4 linked regions of the Homo sapiens genome follow. The protein of the gene in region 3 purifies or fractionates together with the protein of the main gene of each other region. This does not show direct contact. Each region holds a gene or a part of one and is shown on either strand. Other genes may lie near its edges.

The links. The genes of interacting proteins can lie anywhere in the genome.
Region 1: the proteins of ACVRL1 (region 3) and IGSF1 purify together in Homo sapiens (affinity purification with western blotting, with the first as the bait; one study listed by BioGRID). This does not show direct contact.
Region 2: the proteins of ACVRL1 (region 3) and SLC25A24 purify together in Homo sapiens (affinity purification with mass spectrometry; one large-scale study listed by BioGRID and IntAct). This does not show direct contact.
Region 4: the proteins of ACVRL1 (region 3) and ITGA5 purify together in Homo sapiens (co-immunoprecipitation; one study listed by IntAct). This does not show direct contact.

The regions. Positions count from the first base shown.
Region 1 is NC_000023.11:131,276,157-131,279,306, forward strand, and holds part of IGSF1 (immunoglobulin superfamily member 1 isoform 1 precursor), read right to left. Parts: coding exon 3,115-3,150; intron 3,035-3,114; coding exon of another isoform or gene 3,020-3,034; coding exon 2,987-3,019; intron 2,596-2,986; coding exon 2,305-2,595; intron 1,979-2,304; coding exon 1,700-1,978; intron 1,071-1,699; coding exon 783-1,070; intron 93-782; coding exon 1-92. UniProt on the Homo sapiens protein: Seems to be a coreceptor in inhibin signaling, but seems not to be a high-affinity inhibin receptor. Antagonizes activin A signaling in the presence or absence of inhibin B.
Region 2 is NC_000001.11:108,190,344-108,193,843, reverse strand, and holds part of SLC25A24 (mitochondrial adenyl nucleotide antiporter SLC25A24), read left to right. Parts: intron 1-1,008; exon of another isoform or gene 1,009-1,222; coding exon of another isoform or gene 1,223-1,348; intron 1,349-3,500. UniProt on the Homo sapiens protein: Electroneutral antiporter that mediates the transport of adenyl nucleotides through the inner mitochondrial membrane. Originally identified as an ATP-magnesium/inorganic phosphate antiporter, it also acts as a broad specificity adenyl nucleotide antiporter.
Region 3 is NC_000012.12:51,920,683-51,923,861, forward strand, and holds the end of ACVRL1 (activin receptor type-1-like isoform 1 precursor), read left to right. Parts: intron 1-76; coding exon 77-211; 3' UTR 212-2,679; downstream 2,680-3,179. UniProt on the Homo sapiens protein: Type I receptor for TGF-beta family ligands BMP9/GDF2 and BMP10 and important regulator of normal blood vessel development. On ligand binding, forms a receptor complex consisting of two type II and two type I transmembrane serine/threonine kinases.
Region 4 is NC_000012.12:54,409,267-54,412,766, reverse strand, and holds part of ITGA5 (integrin alpha-5 precursor), read left to right. Parts: intron 1-802; coding exon 803-933; intron 934-3,031; exon of another isoform or gene 3,032-3,169; coding exon 3,170-3,282; intron 3,283-3,414; coding exon 3,415-3,500.

The DNA.
Region 1 (3,150 bases), on a different chromosome or scaffold from region 3:
CTGGAAAGTCCCTTGGCAGCGCAGGATCACACTCTTCCCAGGAAACACCACAGGACCTGGCTGTGCCAGGAGAGTGGGTTTGGGGTAGAATTCTGAAATTAAAGAGACCACAGCATGAGATAAACCCAGCCCTCACATCCTGCAAATAGCCTTTTAAAGTGTTATTGTAAGACACAATATATGTTTGTTGTTAAAAATTAGAAAATATAGAAAAAAAAACTAATGAAGGAAACACAATTCTACCACTCAAAGATAAATATTTTTAATATTTAATTGCCATTTATTCTTTCCATATATTCCCATGTCCATGTAGCTATAACTGTTTACATAATTGGGACTCCACTTATGCACAGTTGTGTAGTTGTGTAGTATGCAGCTGACATTTCAAGGTCTTCTCCCTTTCTCTGAGAGCCATCCAGCCCACCGGTCTCTGACAGCCCAGCTAGAGAAAAAGTGGACATTGAGCCTAAAGCTCAATGCCAAGCCATAAAAATGTGCAGAAATAGGGCAAGTTGAACCGAGCTCTTGGGATTAGACACCCCCATCTACCTCATTTATTTCCCCAGAAGTGAATTGCTTGCCTCCCCACTGCCTTTGTTTCTTGTTCCTGTAATAATAACATGAGCAGCTGTGCATCATGGACTGGTCACTATGGGCCAGCCGCTGTCCTAAGCACGTTCTCAGTGTGTTTTAGAAGAAACATTTCTTCCTCTCCCACTGACAGCCTTCCACCCACCATCCCAGGGTTGGCACCACCTCTACCTGGAGTCCCCCCTCCTAACCTGTCACCACGAGCTCCACAGGGTCGCTGGGCTCAGACCAGATAGAAAAGTCATAATATCGGCAGCTGTAATTCCCTCCATCACCAATGCCCACCGAAATGATTAGAAAGTGAGCTGCACTGGCCCCCGGACTTGCCCAGGACCTGTCACTGGATGCTATTTCACTTCCATCTTTGTAAAGAATAAAGCTCATATGCTGGTGGGGGGTGGAGCAATTGAAAGTCACTCGGGCACCAGGGGTGACCACAGGGCTGGCCCATGTCTTGAAGAAGGGCTTAGGGTACATTTCTAGAAGGCAAAAAACAAAAACAAAAACAAAAAACAAAATACAACACAAAACCAAATTAAGAACAAGAAAGAGAGAAAGCAAATATAGCAAATATTGGTTCTCGGAGGCTTCTTTGCTTTTAAGTAAGTGCATTTAAAAAGTAAGGTAAATCCACTTTGCAGATGGACTTCTCACACAGGGACCCTTCAACCCCACCCCTCACTACCTCCAGATGAGTCCTCAGTGTGATCAGGGCAGGCAATGGAGGCTAGTAAAAAGGTAGAATTTTTCTTGGGGTTCTGCTGATTCTCTGAGCCTCAGTTTGCCCATTTGGACAAGGGGAAAATGGTACCTGCTTCACCCACCTTGAAGAGTTGCTCTATGGTGAAGTGAGATAATTGATGTGAAAATAATTAGAAAAATTAAATCACCCTCCACGAACCAAAGCTATTAATAACGATTATGGCTATTAATATCGTGCAGCCAGAGGCCCTGGCACTCCCAGCGCCACGCCTGCCTGGCTCTAAGATTGGACACAGGCTCTCAGGACCAGCAGCAAAGTTTGCTGCAGGGAGAGGAGTGTCTGACCCAGGGCTTTGCCTTTCCCTCCACCCTGCCCCCTTTCCTCCCACACCCTTTTCAGCTCTACCTTTTATGACAAGCTCCAGCGGCTCACTGGGCTCAGACCACTTGAAGGGGCGTTTTTCAGTGTGAGTGCGGCAGCTGTAATTGCCTTCGTCTTTATCCTCCATTCTCTGGATTGTAAAGAAGGCTTCTCTTCCAACAGCACCAAGTTGCTGGACAGGTTCTTGCTCTCCCTCCTTATACAGAGCAAACCCCATGCCTGCCAGCCATCCTTTGCACCGGAGTTGTAGTTCCTGGCCCCGGATTGTGGGGGAAGCAGAAATGACAGGTTTGGGGAGGATGTCTGGAAAACAGAATGGGGTGAAAAAGGAGTCAGAAGTTTGCAGTTGCCCAGATGGGATACTCAGGGTCACTTTGTCAGCAAATAAAGACATTCATTCTGGGCTGGCCCTAGGCTCTTCCAGTCAGTCTCCTCACACTCTCTTTCCCATTCCGCCCCTCCCCCTACCCCATAACCCCCTACCATTTCAGTGCCCCTCCTCTCCTACATGCAGCACGAGCCCCTTGGGCTCCAGGGTCCCTGTGAGTTCATTCCCTCACTCCCAGGAGCAGTGTTGGAGTCCCAGGGGCACTGGGGATAACTCCCGGAGACCCTCTACATTTTCTTACCTGTCCCCACCAGCTCAAGTGCCTCACTGGGCTCCGATACAGCCATCTCCTCCCATGAATGGCAGTGGTAGCTCCCGGTGTGGCTCTGGGTCAGGGCGCCAAGGGGGAAGGCAGCCCGGACCTGCTCTGAGGCCGGGCGAGTGGCGATCCACCCGGTCCCATCCTTCAGCAACACAAACTCCTTAGTTGAGCCAGAAGGGCTTCTGCACCAGAGGGTTAAGTTCTTCCACGGGGCCAGAGGAAAGTTGGTCTCTGCCCACAGCTCAGGCTTAGGGGTTGGCATGACTATTTCTAGAAACAGCAGAATTAATGAAGCCATCCTCCCGCCTCCCTTCCCCTCCCTCCTCCTTGCCCTTGAACCCTCTACCCAGATCACACTGCCCACCTCCCCTTGCAACCCAAATCCAAACCCTTTCCTTCTTTCCTTCCTTCCTCAGGTGCTGGGGAAAGGGGAAGCTGGTGTCTTATAGCTGAGCCTCAGAAAAGTGCAGAAGCTTGGAGGAAATTTTGCAGGCAGAAAGGCAAAGTTGGAGGCTGAATTTTGCCAGCAGCTTTAGCAAGTGCCCCTTCCTGGCTGCCCTTCCCTCCCAACCAGCCACTCCCTGGCCAATGACACTGACGCTCTGTAGTTATTTCGGATCTCCAGGGAGGAATGTCCCAGTCTGGAGCAGGAAAAACTCACCAGTCTCTTCTATCAATACCCCATTGCACAGTCCTGCAAAAGAAATTGCTGCCAGGACTCGGCCCCCTCCCCCACCGGGACTTCACCCCGGCCTTCTGCCCGGGGCCCCTTCCCCCACTTGTACTCACCACAGCAGAGAAGGGCCGTGACTATGAAGAGCATGG
Region 2 (3,500 bases), on a different chromosome or scaffold from region 3:
GGGACCCAAGATCACTGAACTTTTGCCTATTTTGAGATCATCTTTCCAATCCAGCCACTAACAGCTGAAGGATAGGCTTGCCCTGGAGCCATTGTAGTGGTTGGATGAAGATAAAAGATAAAAAACTGTGAGGGGAGGTGTCACAGAAGAAAGGGCCCATGTGGGCAGATTTTCATTCAATTCCTAGTCTTTATTACAGCAATTCTCCAGTGCTGCAACCTTAGAAAAGGATTCCTACAACACAATGTAGGTACCCATCAGCAGCAGATTGGATAAAGAAAATGTGGTACATACACACCATGGAATACTATGCAGCCATAAAAAAGGAGCAAAATCATGTCCTTTGCAGCAATATGAATGCAGCTGGAAGCCAATAACTTAAACGAATTATTGTAGAAACAGAAAAACAAATACTGTGTTCTCATTTACAGGGGGAGCTAAACCTTGGGTAAATGGGGCATAAAGATGGGAACAATAGACACTAGGGACTCCAAAAGGGGGGAGGGAGGGAGGAGGGCAAGGGCTGGAAAGCTTCCTACTGGGTACTTTGTTCACAACCTGGGTGATGGCACGATTAGGAGCTCAAACCCCAGTATCACACAGTATACCCTTGTAACAAGCTGATGGTGTAACCCCTGAATCTACAATAAAATTATTTTATTTTAAAAAATCATTATAAGGATTTTTAAAAAGAAGGATTCCTAGACAGGTGCAGCCAAACAATTTTTTTTAAATGTTGGCAGGCCGCCACCGCCAGTCACTTATGCTGCAATAGCCCATGTCCCAACATTCCCAACCTACTTCTCTCCAAAAGAGAAGCTATACTTTCAGATGGCCCTGTGCTGGGTTCTCCCTGGAAGTTTCTGGGGAAAGGGGCTTGAGTTGCCCCGACTGGACTCTTCCTGGAGTGGGAGCCGGGGCTTCTGATCAGACGTGAGTGAGGCAGGAACTCCGCGGTCTCCCAGCGCAGCCCAGAGTGCGGTCCCACGCAGGTCCCGGGTCCTGCGCGCTCGCGCCTTTGCGCTGAAGCCGTTAGGATGAGCCCTCTCCTTCCAGAGCTTTAACCGATGAAGGTGCATTGTGTTTGGCGCCCCTGAGGAGGATGCTGTCTTAGGCCTCTTCCCACTGGACGTGTGTGGTGGGCAGAGATCCCGTTCGTCGGTCGCACTTCCACCCCGCTGGGGCTCACTCAGGCCGCGGAGCTGCGAGGGAGACATCCTCGATGGACTCCCTCTACGGAGATCTCTTTTGGTACCTGGACTATAACAAGGATGGGACCTTGGACATTTTTGAGCTTCAGGAAGGCCTGGAGGATGTAGGGGCCATTCAATCTCTAGAGGAAGCGAAGGTGGGTCTCACTGGGGCTGTAATCAGAGAGACGTTGGGGCTGGGAGCCCTGGAGAGGCATTGGGCAGAGAGGGCAAAATTTACATGTTGTCAAGCTTGACCTGGGCCCACTGCAGTGTTCAGGTCGTTGACCAGCGTTACCGTTTATTAAGAATAACAACACAGCTAACACATTTCTCAAGTATTTTTCTCCGTTTTCTCCTTGGCTGTAGTAAAATCTCCAACTTCAGATTGCTCTCAAGATGTTGGCTACATACAGCCTTGTCTTAGGAGTCACCTTGTTCAATGTGCTCACCTGTCATTAGTCACCCAGAGGGGCGTCTAGGCTAAAGATGCGCCCTCCCCAGTTCAGAGAACTGGAATAATCACTCTACGTGTATTTGGGAGTGGGGTGGTGATTGGAAATTTTCTGATGTTATGTTTCGGTTTCTGTTCCTGGAAGGGGGCAGTGGAAGTGGCTTTTACTCTCGGGTTTCACTAGTGCTGAGGTTTCCTCATAATATGCCTTAATTGATAGACCCTAGTTATCAGTACCGAGCTTAGGCTAACCCTTCTCTTCCCCAGAAGGCTAACCTACAGGCTCCTTCTCAGCATGTTGTGCTTCGTACATACTCCTATTGCAGTATTTCCAAGTCATTTTTCATTTGGAATTTATTATTGTATATAATAATTACTTTATAAGTATATTTGCTCTTTGGATGTTTGACCCGGTAGACTGGGAGATCATGAGCATGTGGACTATTGAGTTTATTTTGGATAATTGGTACTTCGTGCCCAAAAAACTGTCAGTTGAGTTCTGTCATGTTGAAATTTAGTAAAACTCTTTCTATTAGCCATGTGAACTTTGGGAATATTGAAGCATCCATTCAGTCATGGGTCAGTTCTAGTTTGAGCACATTCTATATTCCAAGCCCCATACCCTGGTATCCTCATCTGTTATATCAGAGGCCTGGACTGTGTACTTTCTGTGGACCAATTCAGTCCAAAATGTTATTTCTGCAAAGCTTATCTGGATTTTTAATTCCTAGAAAAAAGCAGTGTTTCTCCTTTTAAAGTTAAGTGTTCTTGTTCAGGTGCAGTGGCTCATGCCTGTAATTCCAGCACTTTGGGAGGCCAAGGCAGGTGGATCACTTGGGGTCAGGAGTTCAAGACCAGCCTGGCCAATATGGTAAAACCCCATCTCTACTAAAAATGCAAAAATTAACCGGGTGTGGTGGTGGGTGTGTGTAGTCCCAGGAGGCTGAGGCAGGAGAATCACTTGAGCCTGGGAGGCAGAGGTTGCAGCAAGCTGAGATTGCATCACTGCACTCCAACCTGGGTGACAGAGTGAGACTCCATCTCAAAAAGAAAAAAAAAAAGTTAAGTGTTCTTCATATTTGTTTAAAGACACTCTTATATTTAGATTTGCAAGTGTAAGTTGTATTTGTTTATTTGATACAAACTAGCCTTTCATAAGAAATTCTGGGTTAGCTATCAAGTCGAATCTTTTGAAACACATTTCTTCCTTATTGAAACAAAAGGTTTGTAGAGCTGTCTTGCATTTTTGGCAAGGACGCTTTGTGTACCTAGTGGTGACTGAGGAGGGTTCACATGTCAAAACCCAAGGGAGGGGTGTCCCCAGAGAATTCTGCACCAACCACACAGAACATTCTGTTTCAGAGGAGCACCATTGTGACTTTTCCTCAAGTGGCAGTCACATCGTTAGGAGGTTTTGATGTGAGGTCTCTTCCCACACGTCTCCACCTCCCCAGTAGGAAAATTTGTTTATATAGACAAAACTCAACTGATTAAAAAAAAAAAAAAGAAATGATACTTACATTGTCGTGTTAAGATACAAAAGCAATAACTTTTTATTGTGAAAATAGTCTGTTTTTGAACAATATATTGTTTTGTTTTTTCCTGTGAAAGTTGAGAAACTAAATATACGAAGAGATAATGGTCAGACCATAAATAAAAATAGAACTTTGACTCAAAATTTACAGCAGTCTGCCCAGAAAACCAGCCCTTTATCTAAAATAAACAGACCAGGAAACCAGCCTGTTATGTCAGACTTATAGGAAGTCAGGTTGCTATCTCTAGAGACAATACACAAAGCTATGCAATAACTGCTGTAACAGCCCCAAATGGTCAGAATTTGATTAATAACCGACAGC
Region 3 (3,179 bases):
TCTCTCCCGACCCCCTCCTCTTCTCTGCATCTCTCTCTCTGCCTCCTCTCCTCTGCACCTCTCTCCCAACCCCCAGGTCCTCTCAGGCCTAGCTCAGATGATGCGGGAGTGCTGGTACCCAAACCCCTCTGCCCGACTCACCGCGCTGCGGATCAAGAAGACACTACAAAAAATTAGCAACAGTCCAGAGAAGCCTAAAGTGATTCAATAGCCCAGGAGCACCTGATTCCTTTCTGCCTGCAGGGGGCTGGGGGGGTGGGGGGCAGTGGATGGTGCCCTATCTGGGTAGAGGTAGTGTGAGTGTGGTGTGTGCTGGGGATGGGCAGCTGCGCCTGCCTGCTCGGCCCCCAGCCCACCCAGCCAAAAATACAGCTGGGCTGAAACCTGATCCCCTGCTGTCTGGCCTGCTCAAAGCGGCAGGCTCCCTGACGCCTGGCTCTCTCCCCACCCCTATGGCCAGCATGGTGCACCCCCTACCACTCCCGGGACAGGATGCAAAAGAGGCTCCAGAGTCAGAGTGCCAAGCCAGGGAATCCCAGTCCCAGACTCAGAGCCCGGGCCTGCACTTTGCCCCCTGCCCTTGATCAACCCCACTGCCCCACCAGAGCTGCCAGGGTGGCACAGGGCCCTGTCCAGCCCCTGGCACACACTTCCCTGCCAGGCCTCAGCCTCTAGCATAAGCTCCAGAGAGCCAGGGCCCATCAGTTTCTCTCTGTGGATTTGTATCTCAGCTCCATGATGCCTTGGGCTTTCTGTCTCCTCAACAAGAGTGCAGCTTGCTGAATGTCAGCTGCCTGAGAGAGCTGGGGCCTGACTTACTAGGGCATTAAATCCTAAGAGGTCCTACTGAGGTGTGGCAGGATCACAGGCCAGTGGAAAAAGGGCAGGTCAGATGGGCAAGGCCCAGGACTTTCAGATTAACTGAGAGGATATCGAGGCCAAGCATGGCAGGGGGAAGGTCAGTGGGTGTCAAGAGACCCAGGTCTGACCCCGGATGTTTGCTCCATGTGACAAAAGCAGGCCTGTCTCAGGACCTTTTCTTTTCTTTTTTCCTTCTTTTTTTTTTTGACACGGAGTTTCGCTCTTGTTGTCCAGGCTAGAGTGCAATGGCATGATCCCAGCTCACCGCAACGTCTACCTCCCAGGTTCAAATCATTCTCTTGCCTCAGACTCCCGAGTAGCTGGGATTACAGGCACATGCCACCATGCCTGGCTAATTTTGTATATTTAGTAGAAACAGGGTTTCACCATGCTGGCCATGCTGGTCTCGAACTCCTGACCTCAGGTGTTCCACCTACCTCAGCCTCCCAAAGTGCTGGGGTTACAGGTGTGAGCCATCGCGCCTGGCCAGGACCTTTGTTTCTTATCTACATATTGGAAGATTTGGTCCTGATGTCCTTTGAGGCTTCTTTAGCTCTAGTTCTCTGACACTTCAGCCTATATCACAGCTAACTTCTTCAGTCTCATCTATTCCTTATGCTCCAGCCCCTGGCAATTTGCCTCAAGATGGGGGTTTGAAAATAACTTTACCTGACTCAAGGAGTGTCTGGAGCACCTCCTAGTCTAAGTCTGCAAGCTCCAGTTCTTGCCTAAAACCATGCCAGTGGCCACCCTTGGGCTCAGACAGCTCTGGGCCTTTTGACCACAAGCCAGCCCCTCGCCCTCTCTGTGGCATAGTCTTCTCTGCCCCAGGACTGCAGGGCGGCTTCCTCCAAGGCTTCCAAGGCTCAAAAGAAATTTGGCTCCATCCAAGAAGGCTCCAGCTCCCCTACTGGCCCCTGGCTCAGGCCCACACCCCTGGCCAGGCCCAGAGAGTGTGTCTCAGGAGAATTCAATGGCTCTAGAGAGACACACAGAAAGTTTGGCATTTGGAAATTTCAAGGATGTATGTATGCTCACGTATGGAGCAGGTTGTCCTGGTCCCTGGGTGCAGGGAAGTGGGCTGCAGGGAAGTGGATTGGAGGGGAGCTTGAGGAATATAAGGAGCGGGGGTGGAGACTCAGGCTATGGACAAGGACAGCCCCAAGGTTGGGAAGACCTGGCCTTAGTCGTCCTCAGCCTAGGGGCAGGGCAGTGAAGAAAGCTCTCCCCGCTCCTGCTGTAATGACCCAGAGTAGCCTCCCCAGGCCGGCATCTTATGTGTGTCTTCCACCATCCTCATGGTGGCACTTTTCTAGGCCTGTCTCCCAGCATTGTGCAAGGCTCGGAAGAGAACCAGGAAGTGAAACTGGGTGAAAACAGAAAGCTCAATGGATGGGCTAGGTTCCCAGATCATTAGGGCAGAGTTTGCACGTCCTCTGGTCACTGGAATCCACCCAGCCCACGAATCATCTCCCTCTTGAAGGATTTTATTTCTACTGGGTTTTGGAACAAACTCCTGCTGAGACCCCACAGCCAGAAACTGAAAGCAGCAGCTCCCCAAAGCCTGGAAAATCCCTAAGAGAAGGCCTGGGGCAGGAAGTGGAGTGACAGGGGACAGGTAGAGAGAAGGGGGCCCAATGGCCAGGGAGTGAAGGAGGTGGCGTTGCTGAGAGCAGTCTGCACATGCTTCTGTCTGAGTGCAGGAAGGTGTTCCAGGGTCGAAATTACACTTCTCGTACCTGGAGACGCTGTTTGTGGGAGCACTGGGCTCATGCCTGGCACACAATAGGTCTGCAATAAACCATGGTTAAATCCTGAGCTCCGGAGTCTTCCCAGGCCGATGCCTCTGCAGTGGCCCGTCGCAGAGGTCCAGATAAAACCAGAGGGATCCGGGGAGAAGAGGGTCCCAGGATACACGCCCAGCTTTGCCCTTAGACAGGTCACAGTTTCCTCACGCCCCTGCTCAGACCCCCGCGGGGGCCCAAATCTCAGTTCCTACCCCAGATTGGGAGCAGCCTAGTCGCCGCACCTGCCACGTCGCCCTCTGCTGGCCGAGGGCTGCCCAGCGGCCGCCTCCCATCCCCACACAGGGACCGCGGGGCCTTTCCCGGCAGGGTGGGGCAGCCTTCCCCGCACCCGGGGGCCAACGTCTGTGTGCTCACTGACTTGCTGTTCTGCAGGGACTGTCCCCCTAATACCACACCTAGCGAAGAGCGTTCTGCTTCCGAACCGGCAGCTTGGACCCTCCCTCCTCAATTCCTTGTTCTCACTTCCCTTCTCAAATGGGGTCCCCATCTTGCCAGGAGTCAGTCCCCATT
Region 4 (3,500 bases), 2.5 Mb from region 3:
CAGGCCCTTAGCTATGACCACCCCATTACACAGGGCAAACTTCCCCTCATATCAGGGGGAACAGAAGCACTGTGTCCAGAACTGGGACCCCGGTAGAGCAGACTCTGAATTCAGTCAGCTGGGGGTGGTCTATGGGAAAGGGGTTCAAGGGCTGAAACACAGACCCAGCCAGGAAGGGGAGGCCCACACCAGGGCCGGGGTGAGGGCAGGCCCAGGCCCAGTGGAACAATCTGTTTTCACTGTCCTCCAGCTCCTCTCTCCACTCCTGCTGCCTGATTTCCAAGACTCACATTTTCCTCCTACACGCCCCAAGGCTGGGTGGCTGGGCAGCCGGATGCCTGGGTCTTGGCCCAGGGAGGGGATTTGGCTTGGGAGGAGAGTATATAGGCTAGATGAGAGACCCTGAGGCTCCACAGGACCTTGGCGCTCCAGAAGCTATACATCTAATCTCAGCAGGTACGTAGAGGAGAGGGAGAAGCCAGGGGTACAGGCTCTGGCCCCTCTTCCCCTTCTAGAAATTGACTGTGGTTCCTCCTCTCTTTATGAACAGGATAAGGTAGGAGAGGACAGAGAATGGCGGGAGGAGGGGAGGGTTGTGTTAGTGACAGCGGCACATGGGGACCGCCTGACTCCAGCCTGTGCCTCTGGCATCTGTGGCATCTTCTGAGATATAAATACAACGCAGGGGGCATCTACTCCACCCCCAGCCAGCCCCAGCCTAGAGGCCTGGGTCCTTCCTGCCTCCAGACACCAATGAAAAGCTAGGAGCCATCCTCAACTGCCTCGCTTTTCCCCCCCACAGGGTCAGTGTGCTGGTGGGAGCACCCAAGGCTAATACCAGCCAGCCAGGAGTGCTGCAGGGTGGTGCTGTCTACCTCTGTCCTTGGGGTGCCAGCCCCACACAGTGCACCCCCATTGAATTTGACAGCAAAGGTAGGCCAGTGAAATTCAGGGAGGGACTGGGGGGTGGGACTGCAGCCTGGGGGCAAGGCCTGGGTGGGGCCTGGGGCGAGGGGTGGAGCCTGCTGGAACCCCGGCCACGTGACCTCTCAGCACCAGCTCTGGTGCTCCAACTGCTTACAGTGGATCCCCATGGCACTCACTCCACTCTCCCATCCAGCCCAGCCCAAGGAGGACGGGCATGATTCAGAAACATGTGGCTCTCATTTCCCCTGAATCACCCACAATTCTGGGAGGCCAGGGCCGTAACACAGACAAAGACAGGGAATGTTGCACAAACTATTCAGTTCCTTTAACTAAGTACTGACTAAGTGACAGTGCATGACAGGCACTGTGCTGGTGCTGCAGGGACTGAAAGATGACTAAGCCACTGCCCTCAAGGAGCTCAAGGTCTGAGTAGACACAGATGGATGGGAGGAAGATGGAGACTAACAGCTATCAGTTGCTCTGTGCCAGGCCCAGTTGTGAACACTTTACATATATTAGTTCACTTAATCTTTTCAACAACTGTATAAGGTATTATTATCCCCATTTTCTAAGTGAGGAGACAGAGGGTAAGTAGCTTATCCAAGGTTATACAGCTAGCAAACATTGGAGAGAGGATATGAACTAGGGCCATCTGTCTCCAGAAATAAAAACTGGACAGGCTGGGCACGGTGGCATGTGCCTGTAATCCCAGCACTTTGGGAGGCCGAGGCAGGAGGATCACTTGGTCCCAGGAGTTCAAGACCATCCTGGCCAACATAGTGAGACCCTGTCTCTACCAAAAACATTAGACAGAGCTGGGTGTGGTGGCTCATGCTTGTAATCCCAGCACTTTGGGAGGCCAAGGCAGGTGGATCACCTGAGGCCAGGAGTTTGAGACCAGACTGGCCATCATGGCAAAACCCCGTCTCTACTGAAAATACAAAAATTAGCCGGGCATGGTGGCACTTGCCTGTAATCCCAGCTACTTGGGAAGCTGAGGCACAAGAATTGCTTGAACTCAGGAGGCAGAGATTGCAGTGAGCTGAAATCATGTCACTGCACTCCAGCGTGGGCTACAGAGAAAGACTCTGTCTCAAGAAAAAAAAAAAAAAAATTAGCCAGGCATAGTGGTGAGCACTTGTAGTCCCAGCTACTCGGGAGGTTGAGGTGGGAGAATCACTTGAGTGATTCTCCGTCACTGCAGCCAAGGCTGCAATGAGTGCTACTTGCCCCACTGCCCTGTAGCCTGAGTGACAGAGCAAGACCCTGTTTAAAAAAAAAAAAAAATTAAAATAAACCTGGTCAACATGGCAAAACCCCATCTGTACAAAAAACACAAAAATTAGTTGGGTATAGTTTCCACCCACTTGGGGGGCTGATGTGGGAGGATCACTTGCACCCAGGAGGTCAAGGTTGCAGTGAGCCATAATCACGCCACTGCACTCCAGCCTGGGCAACAGAGTGAGACCCTATCTCAAAAAAAAAAAAAAAAGGAGGTGGAACAAGATGGTGTTAGAGACACAGTCCAAGTATAGACAAAGAAGTGCAGCCAAAGGGTTACTCTCTTGGGAAATAGCCACTGTTCCCCACCATCCTCCTGCCCCTGCTCCACAGCAGGCATCCTTGTCTCAGTTGGGTGAGAAAGCAGGAACCTTGGGGAGGCAACTCTAGAAAGCCCAGGTTCTACGCGGGCGCAGTGGCTCACGCTTGTAATCCCAGCACTTTGGGAGGCTGAGGCGGGCAGGTCATGAGGTCAGGAGTTCGAGATCAGCCTGACCAACATGATGAAACCCCGTCTCTACTAAAAATACAAAAATTAGCCAGGTGTGGTGACGCGCACCTGTAATCCCAGCTACTGAGGAGGCTGAGGCAGGAGAATCCCTTGAACCAGGGAGGCGGAGGTTGCACTGAGCCGAGATCATGCTACTGCACTCCAGCCTGGGTGACAGAGTGAGACTCCATCTCAAAAAAAAAAGAAAGCCCAGGTTCTGTGTGCGTGTGCGTGCGTGTGTATGTATGTGTGTGTGTGTATGTGTATGTGTGTAGTGGAGAGATAAGTCAGGCTACACAAACAGACTACACAAAGCAGAATTAAGCTCCTTACCAATTCCACACTCCCAGCGAGTCATGGAGTCTCAGGGCTTGGAAGCGTTTGTTGGGTATCCCCAGGCTGAGGGTAGGGGCTGCCCTAGAGCTCAAATGTCCATGGCTCAGTAAGACTCCCCCTTCTCACTTCCACAAGGCTCTCGGCTCCTGGAGTCCTCACTGTCCAGCTCAGAGGGAGAGGAGCCTGTGGAGTACAAGTCCTTGCAGTGGTTCGGGGCAACAGTTCGAGCCCATGGCTCCTCCATCTTGGTGAGGGGCCAGCAAGCTCAGTGGTGTGGTGGCCAGGGGATGGGCAGTGGTTGGGTAAGGCCGGGCCTGGAGGGAGGGAGGAAGGGCCTTATTGGACTGAATCTGAAGGCCCCTCCTCCTGGGCCCTCCCAGGCATGCGCTCCACTGTACAGCTGGCGCACAGAGAAGGAGCCACTGAGCGACCCCGTGGGCACCTGCTACCTCTCCACAGATAACTT